Homo sapiens: one gene and its partner. The protein of the gene in region 1 purifies or fractionates together with the protein of each later gene. This does not show direct contact. Each region holds a gene or a part of one and is shown on either strand. Other genes may lie near its edges.

The links. The genes of interacting proteins can lie anywhere in the genome.
Region 2: the proteins of GALNT16 (region 1) and SLC39A11 purify together in Homo sapiens (co-immunoprecipitation; 4 studies listed by BioGRID and IntAct, with this or other methods). This does not show direct contact.

The regions. Positions count from the first base shown.
Region 1 is NC_000014.9:69,319,154-69,326,173, forward strand, and holds part of GALNT16 (polypeptide N-acetylgalactosaminyltransferase 16), read left to right. Parts: intron 1-1,557; coding exon 1,558-1,715; intron 1,716-5,538; coding exon 5,539-5,637; intron 5,638-6,183; coding exon 6,184-6,251; intron 6,252-6,808; coding exon 6,809-6,874; intron 6,875-7,020. UniProt on the Homo sapiens protein: Catalyzes the initial reaction in O-linked oligosaccharide biosynthesis, the transfer of an N-acetyl-D-galactosamine residue to a serine or threonine residue on the protein receptor.
Region 2 is NC_000017.11:73,089,683-73,096,825, reverse strand, and holds the start of SLC39A11 (zinc transporter ZIP11), read left to right. Parts: upstream 1-4,137; 5' UTR 4,138-4,215; exon of another isoform or gene 4,216-4,331; intron 4,332-4,709; exon of another isoform or gene 4,710-5,002; intron 5,003-6,975; exon of another isoform or gene 6,976-7,112; intron 7,113-7,143. UniProt on the Homo sapiens protein: Zinc importer that regulates cytosolic zinc concentrations either via zinc influx from the extracellular compartment or efflux from intracellular organelles such as Golgi apparatus. May transport copper ions as well.

The DNA.
Region 1 (7,020 bases):
TTCTGCCCTCAGGGAACCTCCAACTGGCTCCTAGGACAGGAGGCAACCCTAGAAGGTAGTATCGCTACAGAGTGGCAGCAGTTCAGGAGATCAGAGCTCCCCGGACCCTGGGCATGCCTGTCCAGTGAGGTCGGGGGCTAGGCTCTCAGGGGAACATAGAGGCCCTGAGCTGCTGGTGACAGTCCCAGTGTCATTCCACACAGCGATCCACTCCCCACAGGTCTAGCTGCCTTGCTGGGACCATCCCTCTAGGACTAGGCCTGTGATAGCATCCTCATGCAAGAGTTTTGTGAGTGGGCAATTCTCACCCTCCTTTCTGCTTCCTCTGGGGCCCCAGCTTCAGCCCAGGGCTGATGGTTGGGCGGAAAGTTGGAGTTGGGATGTACCCACAGTTGATGATATTTCATGGCACTCTGGAGAACATCCAGCCAGCAGTTTGGTTCAAGTAATGAGATGTCAGGGTGCTTGCATCCATCTGTTAATTTCAGATGTGTCCTTCCCCAGTGTCTGTTGCTGGAGACTCTGGGAGCACAGGGTAGGGTGTGGCCATGAAGGAACGGGATGGGCAATGGCATCTGCCATCCATCACTGCCCAGCACTTAGTGCCTGGGGACCAGTGGATCTTACAGGGGCCATTTCAGGAGCAAGCAAAAGTCCCAGAGAAGATGCATCACTGTCTGAGCACTTGAGTTCTGGTAGCTCTGGCATCAGCCTGCAGGGGTTTGCTGTCCTTACAGGTAGTTCTTTATGCAGCAGATTGTCCAAGCCCTGGTGTTTTACTGATCGGGTGCCTCATATAATGCCTAGGCCAGGGCTAGGCCCAAGTTTCTGCCTAGGAGACTGTCAATCTGCAGGCGCTTGGCAGCATCCATTCTGGTTTGTAGTCCCCTCAGGACACCTTGCCTTAGAGGTCTGGTGCACTCCAGGACTCACCCCCCCAATATCCCGCAAAGAACATTGGTTAAGAGCATGGGCTTTGGAGTCGGAATGACCAGTTTAAATCCAGACCTTGTGACTTAATAGCTCTGACCCTGGATGCTTTTTAAAAAGCCTCTTGATGGCCGGGCGCGGTGGCGCATGCCTGTAATCCCAGCACTTTGGGAGGCTGAGGTGGGTGGATCACTTGAGGTCAGGAGTTCAAGGCCAGCCTAGCCAACACCACGAAACTCCACCTCTACCAAAACTATGAAAATTAGCTAGGCGTGGTGGTGCGCACCTGTAATCTCAGCTACTTGGGAGGCTGAGACAGGAGAATCGCTTCAACCTGGGAGGCAGAGGTTGCAGTGAGCCAAGATCTGCACTCCAGCCTGGGTGACAGAATAAGACCCTGTGTCAAAAAAAAGAAAAAAAAAAGAAAAAAAGAAAAAAAAAGAAACCCTCTTGAGCCTCAGTTTTCTCTTCTGTACAGTGGGGGAGATAATGGTCTCCTCCTCATAGAGTTGGCGTAAGGCACAAATGAGGCCACGTGGCTGGCTCCCGCCTGGTGTGTGCTGAGCACTCGCCAAGCAGTGGGGTCCTCCTGCCTGTGGTCCTCTCTGATGCTGACCTTCATCTCAGGTGACAGGAACTCCCTCGAAAGGCTTTGATGAGAAGGCCTACCTGTCGGCCAAGCAGCTGAAGGCTGGAGAGGACCCCTACAGACAGCACGCCTTCAACCAGCTGGAGAGTGACAAGCTGAGCCCAGACCGGCCCATCCGGGACACCCGCCATTACAGGTACGGCCTCCATCGTGTCAGTGGAGGAAGAAAGACTGAGAGAAAGCCAACATTGTTTAGTTTGTCTTCTTTTACGTGTATCTAAGAAATGAGGATGATTTCCTCAGACTGTGTCCAGTGATTTAGACATTCAAAAACCCTCACCCTCTGTTGCTGGTTTACCTGGCCTACTGAGGCCCTGCCAAGACCAAGGAAACCGCTCCGCTGGGGCCAAGGAGGCCCCAAGGCACTTCAGTCTGGCGCCCCAGCAAAAGTGACCTGGGAGGGGACCAAAGGAGGTCCGTGGCAGTGGGTGAGCCAGGCGCTCTTGGGGCCTTACTGGTGGTGCCTAAAGTGGAGAGAGTCACAGCCCTGCACATTGCAAACAGTGGGGTGCTGTGGCCCACCCCATTGACCTCCCTTTCCTGCACCACAGCTCCACCTCCTCAGCAACTCCCAGAAATGCTTCCTAGTCTTGTTCTTAGTTCTCTCAGTATGGTGAGGTGGGAGAGGCCTTAGACCAGGACCAAGGAAGCCTCCACTCTCATCCCAGCTCAGTGTGCGTGACCGGCCTTAAGCAAGGCATTAGCCCCTCTCTGGGTCTATGCCCTTGTGTGTTCTGTCTAGAGGGTGAAAGTCACCATCTCCAGTCTTTCCTCTTCCTGCCGTCACCTGCACGAACAGTCTGAGTTCCTGATGCTGAAGCACCACCCCCCGCTCCCCATGACCTGGCCTTACCCACCTTTCCCCCAGCACTTGATGGTCCTGCAGTCCCAGATTCCTCCCTCCTTCCTTCCTTGCTTTCACACATGCTGTTTCCTCTGCCTAAACGCACCTCCTCCGCCCCACCTACCCTTTGAGCTACTTGGCTCACTTCGAGGACACTTGGCTCACTGTCCTCTCCTCCATGGAAGGCTCCTTCCCAACCCGGGCTAGGTTGGGCCCCTCTTCTGTGCTCTGTGCAGACATCTCACAGAATGGCCAGGGCGCTGTTGGAGCTGACTCACGGCTGTGCCTGCAGCTGTGTGCTCAAAGCTAGGCTGGGCCTCCGTCTGGTCCTGGCTTGAGGGTAGCAACAATGACTTGGATCAAGGTTGCTTTTACTTCTGAAGCAGCTACTCCACAGCACAAAGGGTATAGGTGAGGTGAGGGTGCGAGAGGGCCTGGTTCTAGCACCTTCCTTGTCACTCACAGATGCATGCCTGAAGTCCAGGGTGCTTGGTGGCCTGTGCAAGGTGAGATGAACACAGGGCTGGGGGAGCCCCAGACCTTGGCCTTGCTGTCCTGTAACGCCAGCACTGTCAGCCTCCAGAAACCACTCATGCAGCCAAGTAAGGCAGTACTCCTGCTTCGCGGCAAGGACACCACCAGGCCTGCTGGCTGTTTCTGGGCCTCAGAAGTTCTTTCTCACCCAGTCCTGGGCAGCATCCCCTCCTGTCTGCCTGTGCTGCAGAAGAGGTTACATCCACATAGCTCCACTTAGAGACCTTTCATGGGCAGCCCTAGCCATGGCTGACCTAGTCCCAGGGTCTAGAGGATCTGTTGGCCCCAATCTGTGAATTGAGGGCTTGCCCTGGATAATCTCTGTTCACCCCCCAGCTTACCTGACTCTGAACCGCCTCAGGTGCTCACTGAGAAACTTAAAGGGGGAATTGCCCTGGGGGCTATGTACATTTTTAAATGAGACGCTTTAAATCCAGGGTAGTGGTGGGTTGATGAGGTGCCACATGCTGCTGCTGGGCCCTGTCAGAAAGCTGAGGTGGGCCAGGCACGGTGGCTCACACCTGTAATCCCAGCACTTTGGGAGGCTGAGGTGGGTGGATCATTTGAGGTCAGGAGTTCAAGACCAGCCTGCCTATCATGGTGAAACCCTGTCTCTACTAAAATACAAAAATTAGCTGGGTGTGGTGGTGGGCACCTGTAATCTCAGCTACTCGGGAGGCTAAGGCAGGAGAATCTCTTGAACCTGGGAGGCAGAGGTTGCAGTGAGCCAAGATCGCAGTACCGTACTCCAGCCTGGGTGCCAGAGTAAGGCTCCGTCTCAAAAAAGAAAAAAGAAAGCTGAGGTGGCTCACGGGGTGTGTGTGTGTGTGTGTGTGTGTGTGTGTGTGTGTGTGTGTGTGTGTGTGTGTGTGCGCGCGCACGCGCGCACGCATGCACACGTGTAGGGAAGCAAAGGACGTGCTGGCTTTAGTGGGCAGGCCTCCTGCCATGGTGGGGCCAGTTTGCTGGTAGAAGCTGCTCTTCCTTGCAGCCCTGCAGGCTGTAGTGTCCGCTGGACTCCAAATTGTCAGGTTCATTTCTGGTCCAGCCTCAATCTAGGGAGCCCGCTCCAGGGGAGCAAAGGGACATAAACCACATAAGACAGGCCGAGGAGGATCACAGAGAAAACCCCATCAGCTCCAAACTCAAAACTCAGGGCTGGGACAAACCCCTTTAGAGGCTCCTGGCTCCTGGGAGCCAGATAAACCCCCATGCTAAGTAACATCAATCCCAGAGGCATGCATGCCGAAAGGGCTGGAGGGAGCCGGTGGGGAGGTCAAGTTCACCCTTCAGATGGGGTGTGGGTGGGTTTGCCCCCTTCAGGGAGACGTCACTGTCCCGATTCCCTCCTTTCTGGGCACCGGATGGTTGGGGGATCAGGACAGAGGACTGGGGCCCTGGAGGTCAGCACTGGGAGGGTGCACACTTAGGAGGTATTTGCTGCTCCCAGCACACCCCAGCTCAGCCGGCCAAGCTCACTCCCTCCCCCACAATTCATAGGCCCTTGAACAGCATGGTTTCTCAAGGGGTAGAAGGCAAATTTCCCTCCGCCACCACTACCCTACACCCCCTCTCAAGGAGAATTATTGCACAGCCTCTCAAGATTTCCCCCAGGGGGGTCCCAGGCTAGTGGGACTCCTGCCTGTCTGACCTGGTCTGCTCTGCAGGGCAGGAAACAGGCCTGGGAATTCGGGCTGTAAGCTGCTGTCAGTAGAATGAATGCCACAATGAAAAAACGGGCACTGGTGGAATAGTCAGAGAGCAATTGTAATAAAGAAGATTGCTATGAAAACCAGCAACGGAGGCCACCTTCCAGCACCCCAGGAGCTCAAATAAATGCATACGCAGAAACAACAGGGATGAAGTCTGGCAGGAATGAATTGTTTTCACTCCCTTTCTAGAGGAGAGGGAGCCAGTAGGCCAGAAAATGTGGTGTCTATGGATGGCTGGGGAGGGAGGAAGTGACGGGATAGGCCTTTGGTGTCTTAACAGAGGCTTGTTTCCTCCAGGGGACCCAGTACCCTGGGAGGAGTGAGACTGCTCCCCAGCTTGTTGTCTGCAGCAGGGCTGTCAGTGTTGGGCAGTGACAGGGAGGAATTCCCTGGCAGCCAGGGTAGGGGTGATTCCTCTGCAGATTCTACCAAATGTCCTGAGCTGGGAAGAGAGAAGGAAGAAACTCTAGGGTATCAGGACAAACAGAGGTAGTTTTCCCTCTCGCACATACCCCCCACCATACGACAGAGTGTGGTCAGGGCTGTATCCTGGGGCCTGGTGCAGTATCTGTATATACTAGGGAGCCCCCTCTGGGGGCTCTGAGATCTCTGGTAAAGAGCCCCCAGGCCTTGGAAGGTCTCCCAACCTGCTGCTTCCCTCCCAGGACCCCAGGATGGGTGGCATCGGGGTTCTGGGCCAGTGTGGGATGCAGCATGGGGGTGGAGGCGCGGGGCCTCTGGCCTGGCTGTTGGTGTGCCTTCTCTGCCTGGCAGAAGTATTCTCAGGCACAAGACTGGACAAAGAAAAACATTGACCTGCCCTGAGGATGCCCTCATGGCTGGCTCTGACCTCTGTGCTCCCTTCTCAGCTGCCCATCTGTGTCCTACTCCTCGGACCTGCCAGCCACCAGCGTCATCATCACCTTCCACAATGAGGCCCGTTCCACCCTGCTGCGCACAGTGAAGAGGTAAGTCCAGCCATGGGACTCTCATCTCAGTGGTGCTGGCAGGGGAGGACATTGGGATTGGGCGCTGTGGCCAGACAGCTTGAAGCCCAGCAGGTGCTGGAGGCTGAGTCCTGTACTTCTGAGAGGCTGAGACTGGTGAATCAGGGCCAGGAAGACCCCAGAAGTCAAACTGTTAGAGGAATGCGACAGTCAAACACCAGGTCAGATGTCCAGGACAAGGGCAGAAATGCAGGTGTCAGGAGCTGAGGGAGGCCGGGCTAGACAGGAGGCCTCAGGAGGGTGATGGAAGCCCAGCAGTGTCTGTCAGTGTCAGAGAGAGGTGGATTGGAGGTGGATTCTTCCTGCTAAGCCTGGGCTTGTGGTCAAGTTGAACTCCCATCTCCCCATTTCCTCAATGAACTTAGACAAGAATAGGATTCAGGTAGGAGCGCCCAGCATGCTGGCCCTGGAGCTGGGCGGCTGGGGAGTCCCACGGCCCCGGGAGTGGTAAAAATGGGAGGTGGTTCCTAAATCCAGGCTCTTTCTCTGTTTCCACTGCTACTGTAGTGTCCTGAACCGAACTCCTGCCAACTTGATCCAGGAGATCATTTTAGTGGATGACTTCAGCTCAGATCGTGAGTAGTCACCTTCCTTTTTGCAGCCCTCCATTCCGCCCTCGTCCCTGTTTCCCCAGAACACCAAGGCAAGCACCCTGAGGTTGTCCTGACCATCGCAGACACCTTTCTGCCCCCAGCAGGGATCCTGTCTTTTCTAGGACCCCTCCCTGGTCCTGTTCCCTGGTGTCAAAGGAGGGGAAAGAAGGGTGGGTGTTGCTTTGGATGGGACTCTAGTGAGATGATATTGTTTTTAAAAAGTAAAGAAAATCAACAGCATCCTTCATTATTACAACTGCCAAATGCAGATGATAGCTGGGCTGGTAGCCACCCCCAAGCGTGCTTTCTAGTGCTCCCTGAGGTGGAGTGGAGTACTGCCATAGGTACAGGCACTCCTCAGTCTGGCCTGAGAGTGGGGCAGGGCAACCCTTCGGCCAGTAGTGATGACCATACCTCTTCCCAATCCCCATCCCCAACCCTTTCCTGGGCTTAGTATGGGGCAATTTTCATGGCAGCCAAACCACTAGTGGCCTGATGCCCATGTCTAAATGAGCTTGCCTTCCTCTTTGCATCCTCAGCGGAAGACTGTCTACTCCTGACCAGGATCCCCAAGGTCAAGTGCCTGCGCAATGATCGGCGGGAAGGTGAGTCCTTGCACCCTGGGTCCCACCAAGGGCCCATCTTGGTGTCATCCTGTGCACTTCCCCACTCTCTCTTGGTGCCGTGGCACACCAAGCCAACATGGTCCTGCTGCATTCCTGATGGCTGAGACCAGGTTCTGCAGAAGACT
Region 2 (7,143 bases), on another chromosome or scaffold:
CTTCTTTTTTTGAGATGGAGTTTTGCTCTTGTCGTCTAGGCTGGAGCACAATGGCATGATCTCGGCTCACTGCGACCTCCGTCTCCCAGGTTCAAGCGATTCTCCTGCCTCAGCATCCCGAGTAGCTAGGCTTACAGGCGCCTGCCACCATGGCCAGCTTATTTTTGTATTTTTAGTAGAGATGGGGTTTCACCATGTTGGCCAGGCTGATCTCGAACTCCTGACCTCACGTGATCCACCCACCTCAGCCTCCCGAAGTTTTGGGATTACAGACGTGAGCCACCGCACCTGGCCCAGGAAACATTTTCTTCTGGCCAATACTCTGGCCCTTTTGACTGTAAGGAAGTATGTGAAAGGGGGCAGTTTGCATGTTTGCGGAGTGGGCATATGTGTGGGAGTTTATTGAGAAAGATGGGGAAATGGTAAGATTTGTCTCCTGGGGGTTAGCACCCCTCCCGCTTATGGGCTTGGTGTGGTTTAAAGAAAGTGAGATGCAGAAATGCTGATCAAGGTGGCTCTGGGTCTCATCCTGTGAGCCCTGAATGCCCCATGCAGGAAGGGCACCATCTCAGGAGTCAGCTGGGCTTGGTGTCCCACACTGCCCCATGGACCTTGGGTCACTCCAGAGCTTTCCTGAGCCTCAATTTCCTTATCTGTAGAATGGGGATAATGATACCTTCCCCTCAGAGTTGTGAGTTTTACATAAGAAGAGGATATAAAGATAAAGTGGCCCAGGTTGGGCATTCAACAAATGTTAGTTGCTTCCCCACTTTTCCTTTCCCACATCAAGTTTACCTATGCATTGCATGCAAGCATCTCTTGAGGACATGCTATAATATGAGGTGCTATCCTGGCTGGGATGAGGGGAAGAAGCTCAGTAAGGAGCTTGATTCTAATCCTGGGTCTGTATGCCGAATATAGCAGTGAAGTTAGATCCTACAGTATAAGACAGAAGGAGGCAAGTGCCTTAGAATCCAGATGGAGTTCTATGGGACCTTAGAGGATAGAGACTCGATTTGTAACCAGGGCTGGGACAGGTGGGAGATGAGGTCAGATGGGGTGCCCAAGGAGAATGCATTAAACCTGGGTCTTGCAGGATGGTGGGGCTTAGATTTGGGAGGCGAAGGGCAGTTCAGCAGAAATGGTATAAGGGAGATAGGAGTGGCAGGGAGGGAAGGCTGTGTGGAGGACAGCGAGCTGTCCAGCCTGGCTTGGCCAGAGGGCACAGGGAGGAGAACCCTGGGAGACAGACTTGAGAACGTTTAGTTGGAATCATACCACAGCAAAACTCAAATTCCAGGCTGAAGCATTTGAACTTTATGCCAAAGGCACTGGGGAGCTATCGGAGCTTTTTGAGCAGGAGAGTGTGATGTGCTGTGCTTTAGGCAGGCTGATCTTGGCGGTGCTACATGGAACAGACTAGACAGGGTGGAGTGGAAGGAGGTGACTCCATGACCTAGATGAGGGATGGGCAGGTTGAATCCTCACAGCAGCAGTGAGAAAGGAGAGAAAGGATTGGGCAGGAGAGGCACTTTGTGGATCGTTGTAAACATTTCTGTTTATTTTTCATTATAAAGAATTTAAGCGGCTGGGCGCAGTGTCTCACTCCTGTAATCCTAGCATTTTGGGAGGCTGAGGCAGGTGGATTGCTTGAGCTCAGGAGGTTGAGACCAGCCTGGCCAACATGGCAAAACCCCGTCTCTACTAAAAATACAAAAAATTAGCTGGGTGTGGTGGCACGCACCTGTAGTCCCAGCTAATTGGGAGGCCAGCTGAGGCAGGAGAATCACTTGAACCTGGGAGGTGGAGGGTGCAGCGAGCCGAGATTGCACCACTGCACTCCAGCCTGGGTGACAGGGCGAGACTCCGTCTCAAAAAAAAAGAAAAGAATTTAAGCATCCACAAAAGTAGAAACAGAAACATTTAATGAACCTCTACGTGCCCGTTCCCCAGGTTCAACAATGGTTAATTTTTTATTTTTAAGAGACAGGGTCTTTCACTGGAGTGCAGTGGCACCATTACGGCTCACTGCAGCCTCAAACTCCTGGGCTCAAGTGATCCTCCCCACTCAGCCTCCCTAGTAGCTGGGACTACAGGCCCAGCTACCATCTGCCACCATGTCCAGCTACTTTTTAAAAACTTTTTGTAGCGACGAGATCTTGCTTTTTTGCCCAGGCCGGTCTCAAACTCTTGGGCTCAAACAATCTGCCCACCTTGTCCTCCCAAAGTGCTGGGATTACAGGTGTGAACCACCATGCCCAGCCTAAGAATGGTTAATTCATGGCCAATTTTGTTTAATCTCTACTCCATCCACTTTTCTCTTCCATCATATTTTGAAGTGAGTCTAAGATATTGTGTCATTTTATGGCTATTGCAGCGTGCAGGAAGAGGTATGACATTTTGGAAGATGAGTTGATGGGCCGTGCCACATGGGTATTGTGTCTCTGTGTGCCTGTACATACTCTCTTATGTGGAATTGCAATGGCTGATTTGACTCTTCCAAGTTGGGGGTCTTTTAAGGGCAAAGACCACCCTCCAGTGGCCAGGCTGTCTTCTCCTCCCCATGGAGTGCTTGGTATATGGTGCGACCGTCAGTGTGAACAACCTAGTTCCACTGGAAGAAAGAGGCCTGTTATTGGACCCTTTGGGCTATGGCCATCGAGACCACGGGTAGCTTTTCTGCTCAGGTCACGCTCTGATATGTTGTCAAATAAAACACAGGACACTCAGCTGGGTTTCAGTTTCAGATCAACAACAAATATGCCTGTAACATAAGTATGTCCCACACATTGCCCGGGGCATATTTATAGTAATAAATGACGTTATTTTTCTGAAATTCAAATTTAATCAGGCTTTTTTTTTTTTTTTTGAGATGGAGTTTTGCTCTGTTGCCCAGGCTGGAGTGCAGTGGCGTGATCTTGGCTCACTGCAAGCTCGGCCTCTCGGGTTCACGCCATTCTCCTGCCTCAGACTCCCGAGTAGCTGGGACTACAGGCGCCTGCCACCACGCCCAGCTAATTTTTTGTATTTTTAGTAGAGACGGGGTTTCACCGTATTAGCCAGGATGGTCTCGATCTCCAGACGTTGTGATCTGCCCGCCTCGGCCTCCCAAAGTGCTGGGATTATAGGCGTGAGCCACAGCGCCCAGCCCAGGCATCTTGTTTCTATCTATTTATTTATTTTGTTTTGTTTTTGGCTAAATCTAGTCAATCCTATCCTCTGGTCTTTTCACAGAAATCCTGCAGATCAAAGCCTTTGACCTAGGGCAGTGCTTTTCAAAGGGTGGTCCCAGGACAGCAGCATCAGCAACTCCTAGCTCAAAACAAGATCTCAGGCCAGGCGCGGTGGCTCATGCCTATAATCCAGCACTTTGGGAGGCCCACACGAGTGGATCATTTGAGGTCAGGGGTTCGAGGCCAGCCTGGGCAACGTGGTGAAACCCCGTCCCTACTAAAAAAAAAAAAAAAAAAAAAAAAAAACAAAAATTAGCGGGGCTTGGCAGCATGCACCTGTGATCCCAGCTACTCGGGAGGCTGAAGCAGGAGAATCGCTTGAACATAGGAGGCAGAGGCTGCAATCACCCGAGATTGGGCCACGGCACTCCAGCCTGGGCGAAAGAGCGAGACTCCATCTCAAAAAAACAAAAGCAAAAACAAAAAAATCCCAAAATGTCAGCCCCACCCAGAATGACGGAACCAGAGCCTCTGGGGGTGCTGGCATTTTGTGTTTGACCCCCTCCAGTGATTCTTTTGAGGGTCATTGACTGGAGAATGATGCCGATGCCATCACATTACCCGCCCCCAGCCTCTCCCGCAACACACACACAGCACATCCTGCTCTGCTGCGCACCCAGTGGCATGGACCTGGCTGCCAAAGGTGTAGAAGCATAAGTAACATCAGGGGTGTTACAAAGGGCTCTTTCCTTGGGTGTTTGTAGCTTCCCTTAGGGCTGCAGTCACTCGCAGACTGCTGGGCTCTTGGCCTCAGGGCTCTGTTCTGCCCGCCCAGATCTGTTCCTGAGCCTGCAGACGGCTGTGAACCAGAGAATCTATTCTTCAGGCGGGAGTTGCCAGTTGCGGCCAAGGGGGCGGGGCCCGGAGGCGGGAGGGCCACGTGTGCGGGAGGGAAGCAGGAAGTGACTGCGGGAGTGGAGCCGGCGAGAGAGTGGCAGCGGGGGCTGATGGAAGTGCAGTGGGGGCTGGAGAGGGCACCCTAGTGAGTTGGCTTTTCTCTCCTTCGGTGCCTTTGGTTGGGCTCGAGGCCCGGGGTCGGAGGCCATCAGGACAAGAGTGTGGGACTTGGAAGGGCAGCCACCTGGAGCTTGGAAGGGGGTACGCCTGGAGAGAGGAGGGGTTTGGAGGAGAAATTGGAGGCTTTGGCAGGTGTCGGGGCGGGGTGGGAGGGTGAGGGGCGGTGGGAAGGAAGTCCCCGGACCCCGGCTATGTCCCTCTCCAGGGTGATCTGGAAGGCAATGACATGCCTTCCTTTTACAGTCCTAACCCAAATCCTCTTCGTTCGTCCCTTCCTAGGCGGTGTGTGGGGGTACCCGGGATTCCTGGGAGCAGAGGCAGCTACAAATCCAGCTGCTCCCAGGCCCCTCCCACTTGCTCTGGCTGTTAGCTGGACCTCTGGAACTTGACTGGGAATCTGGTTAACTTGCAGCAGGTCTGGGTGGGGCGTGACAGTGTGCATTTCTAACTAATTCCCAGGTTGGGTGGTCCGCGGACCACGCTTTGAGTAGCGAGGCATTAGAGAACTTTTCCACAGTCCTCTCCGCCCAGACCTGAATCCTTCTGCTGGATTCCCCCTCGTGGAGTTAGGGCATGTGTGTGCAGCTCCACTAAGGCCCAGCAGCCCTAGTGCTGTTTCCACTTCTGCAACTTCACCAGCCTCTTGAACTGACTCTTGGAAGCGGAACAACAGGTTTAAAAGGGGGAGAAAGGAAATAAAGAAAACAAACCTGTATCAATCAGCCGGGAATGCCCATGTGCTGCTGTGGCAGGTGTGTACAAGTCTACAGGCTGTTGGCATGTTAAAAGTTGGAACGGTCAGAGAATGATTCTCCCTGCTGCTAACGAATCAGGGTTGATGGAATTAATATCCCCATCGTGAGGAATTCTGAGCCCCATTGTGTAAGCTGTGATGGAGATGCTGTGTCCTAAAGTTGTTACTGGTCTGCCGGTTAGAGAAAACTTCTTGTTCTCTTGGGACTCTGCCAGAAACTTTTTCTTCTCTTGAGACTCTGCAGAAAACTTTCTGTTCTTTTGGGACTCTTCTTTGCTCTTGCCAATCCCACATGGGGCAGGAGAACTCATTTTCTAAGCTCTTGGTATTGTAGAAGTTTTACCAGTTTTATTTATTTATTTATTTTTATTTTTTTTTGAGACAGAGCCTTGCTCTGTCACCCGGACTGGAGTGCAGTGGCGCGATCTCGGCTCACTGCAACCTCCGCCTCCCGGGTTCAAGCGATTACTCCTGCCTCAGCCTCCCGAGTAGCTGGGACTACAGGCACTGGGACTACAGGCACACACCACGACGCCCAAGTAATTTTTGTGTTTTTAGTAGAGATGGGGTTTCACCGTGTTGGCCAGGCTGGTCTCGAACTCCTGACCTCAGGTGATCTGCCCGTCTTGGCCTCCCAAGGTGCTGGGATTACAGGCATGAGCCACTGCGCCTGGCCAAGTTTTACCAGTTTTAATCTTTTGCTTTCCACAGTTTAATGTGCATAAGAATCCCCCATGGAATTCCACAAAATGCAGACCCTGATTCAGAAAGTCTGGGGTGAGACCTGAGTTTCTGCATTCCTAACTAGCTCCCAAGCCGGACCAGTGCTGCTGGTTCTCTGACCACCCTTGTAGCGAGGATTTAAAACAGCAAATAGAGAAGAAACTTCTCCGAGGGGCACTGGGCTTGCATTGCCCGTGATCAATGCTGCTCCTGTTGGGATGGAAAGGATGGTGGCCTCGGTCTTCCCTCTGTGTCCCTTTTTCTTACTCAGGAGGGTGCTCAGATATACATGGGGACAGGCTTAGACGGGTGTTTCCCTATCCCACTAACCACCAGGAACACCCACGAGCTCCCTCTGTTCTGTTCACCAGCCCACAAGATCCACATTGACTTTGGCCTGTTGGCAAATGTAAATTGTTTGCTCTCTTCTGTAGCTGTCAAGAGGCACATTCAAATACAGGAAAGAAAGGTGTTTTTGTTATGCCCTGTCTTGGATGATAAGTACTAAGAGGATGATCCCTTTGTGCTGTTCTTTGTAAATGCTGTTTGAAATTTTGTCCACAGCAACTCGGAATAGATGATTGGTGTAATGGTCCAGATGGCTTGGTTTAAAAACAAAGACCAACCCCTCTTTTTAGGGTGGCTTAGCAAGATGACGGATGTAAAGGGTAGTAGTTTTTTGAAAATGATTTTTTTTTTCTTTAATTGGCGTGGTCACAGTTTTCACAGTTGGTGCAGTTCGTTTAGAGTGCGGGAACTAGAGTCTGATTCCATAGATGCTATTTATCTCAGAGTTTCTGGCACAGGGGCTGAGCCAGGGCTCACCTGGGCTCACCTGGACCTATACCCTTCCTAGGTTTGAGCCTGGGTGTGTTGCTGAGCCGCTTGGCATAAGGGCTGCGTCCACACTCTGCCATGGTTTCCTTCCAGGGTCAATCGAGGCAGCGTCTTCAGCTCTTGATCTGCAGGCTCAGGGCTGCTGGCTCCTCACAGAGCACCGGGAACTGGCAGGGCTGAGCCCAGTGTGGTTGTGTCCAGCCAGCCCTCTGGGTGCTGGCAGACCATCAGGGAGATGAATGAGGCTTTGATATGAGGCCCTGAGCCCAGTGTTTGTGTACCAGAACACAGGGCTTTTCAACAAATGGGTTTCTCTGCCTTGTAACTTTCCACAGGGAGAGATCTGATTGTCATCTCAGATCCAGAATTTTAAGCATGTTAAAGTCTGGAGGAGGTTCTCTGGACTGAAATGAGAGGGAGTGGTACTTCCCTTCCTTTCCTTGGTGGGCGGTGGTGTAACTTCAGCTTCAGCAGCAGGGTGCTGAGTTGACCAGGGGACATTCCATTCCTGGGTCCTTTTGCTTGTCCTTGCTGACTGTCCTGTGCAGGTAAGCTGGCCCTTTTCCATCCAGCACATAT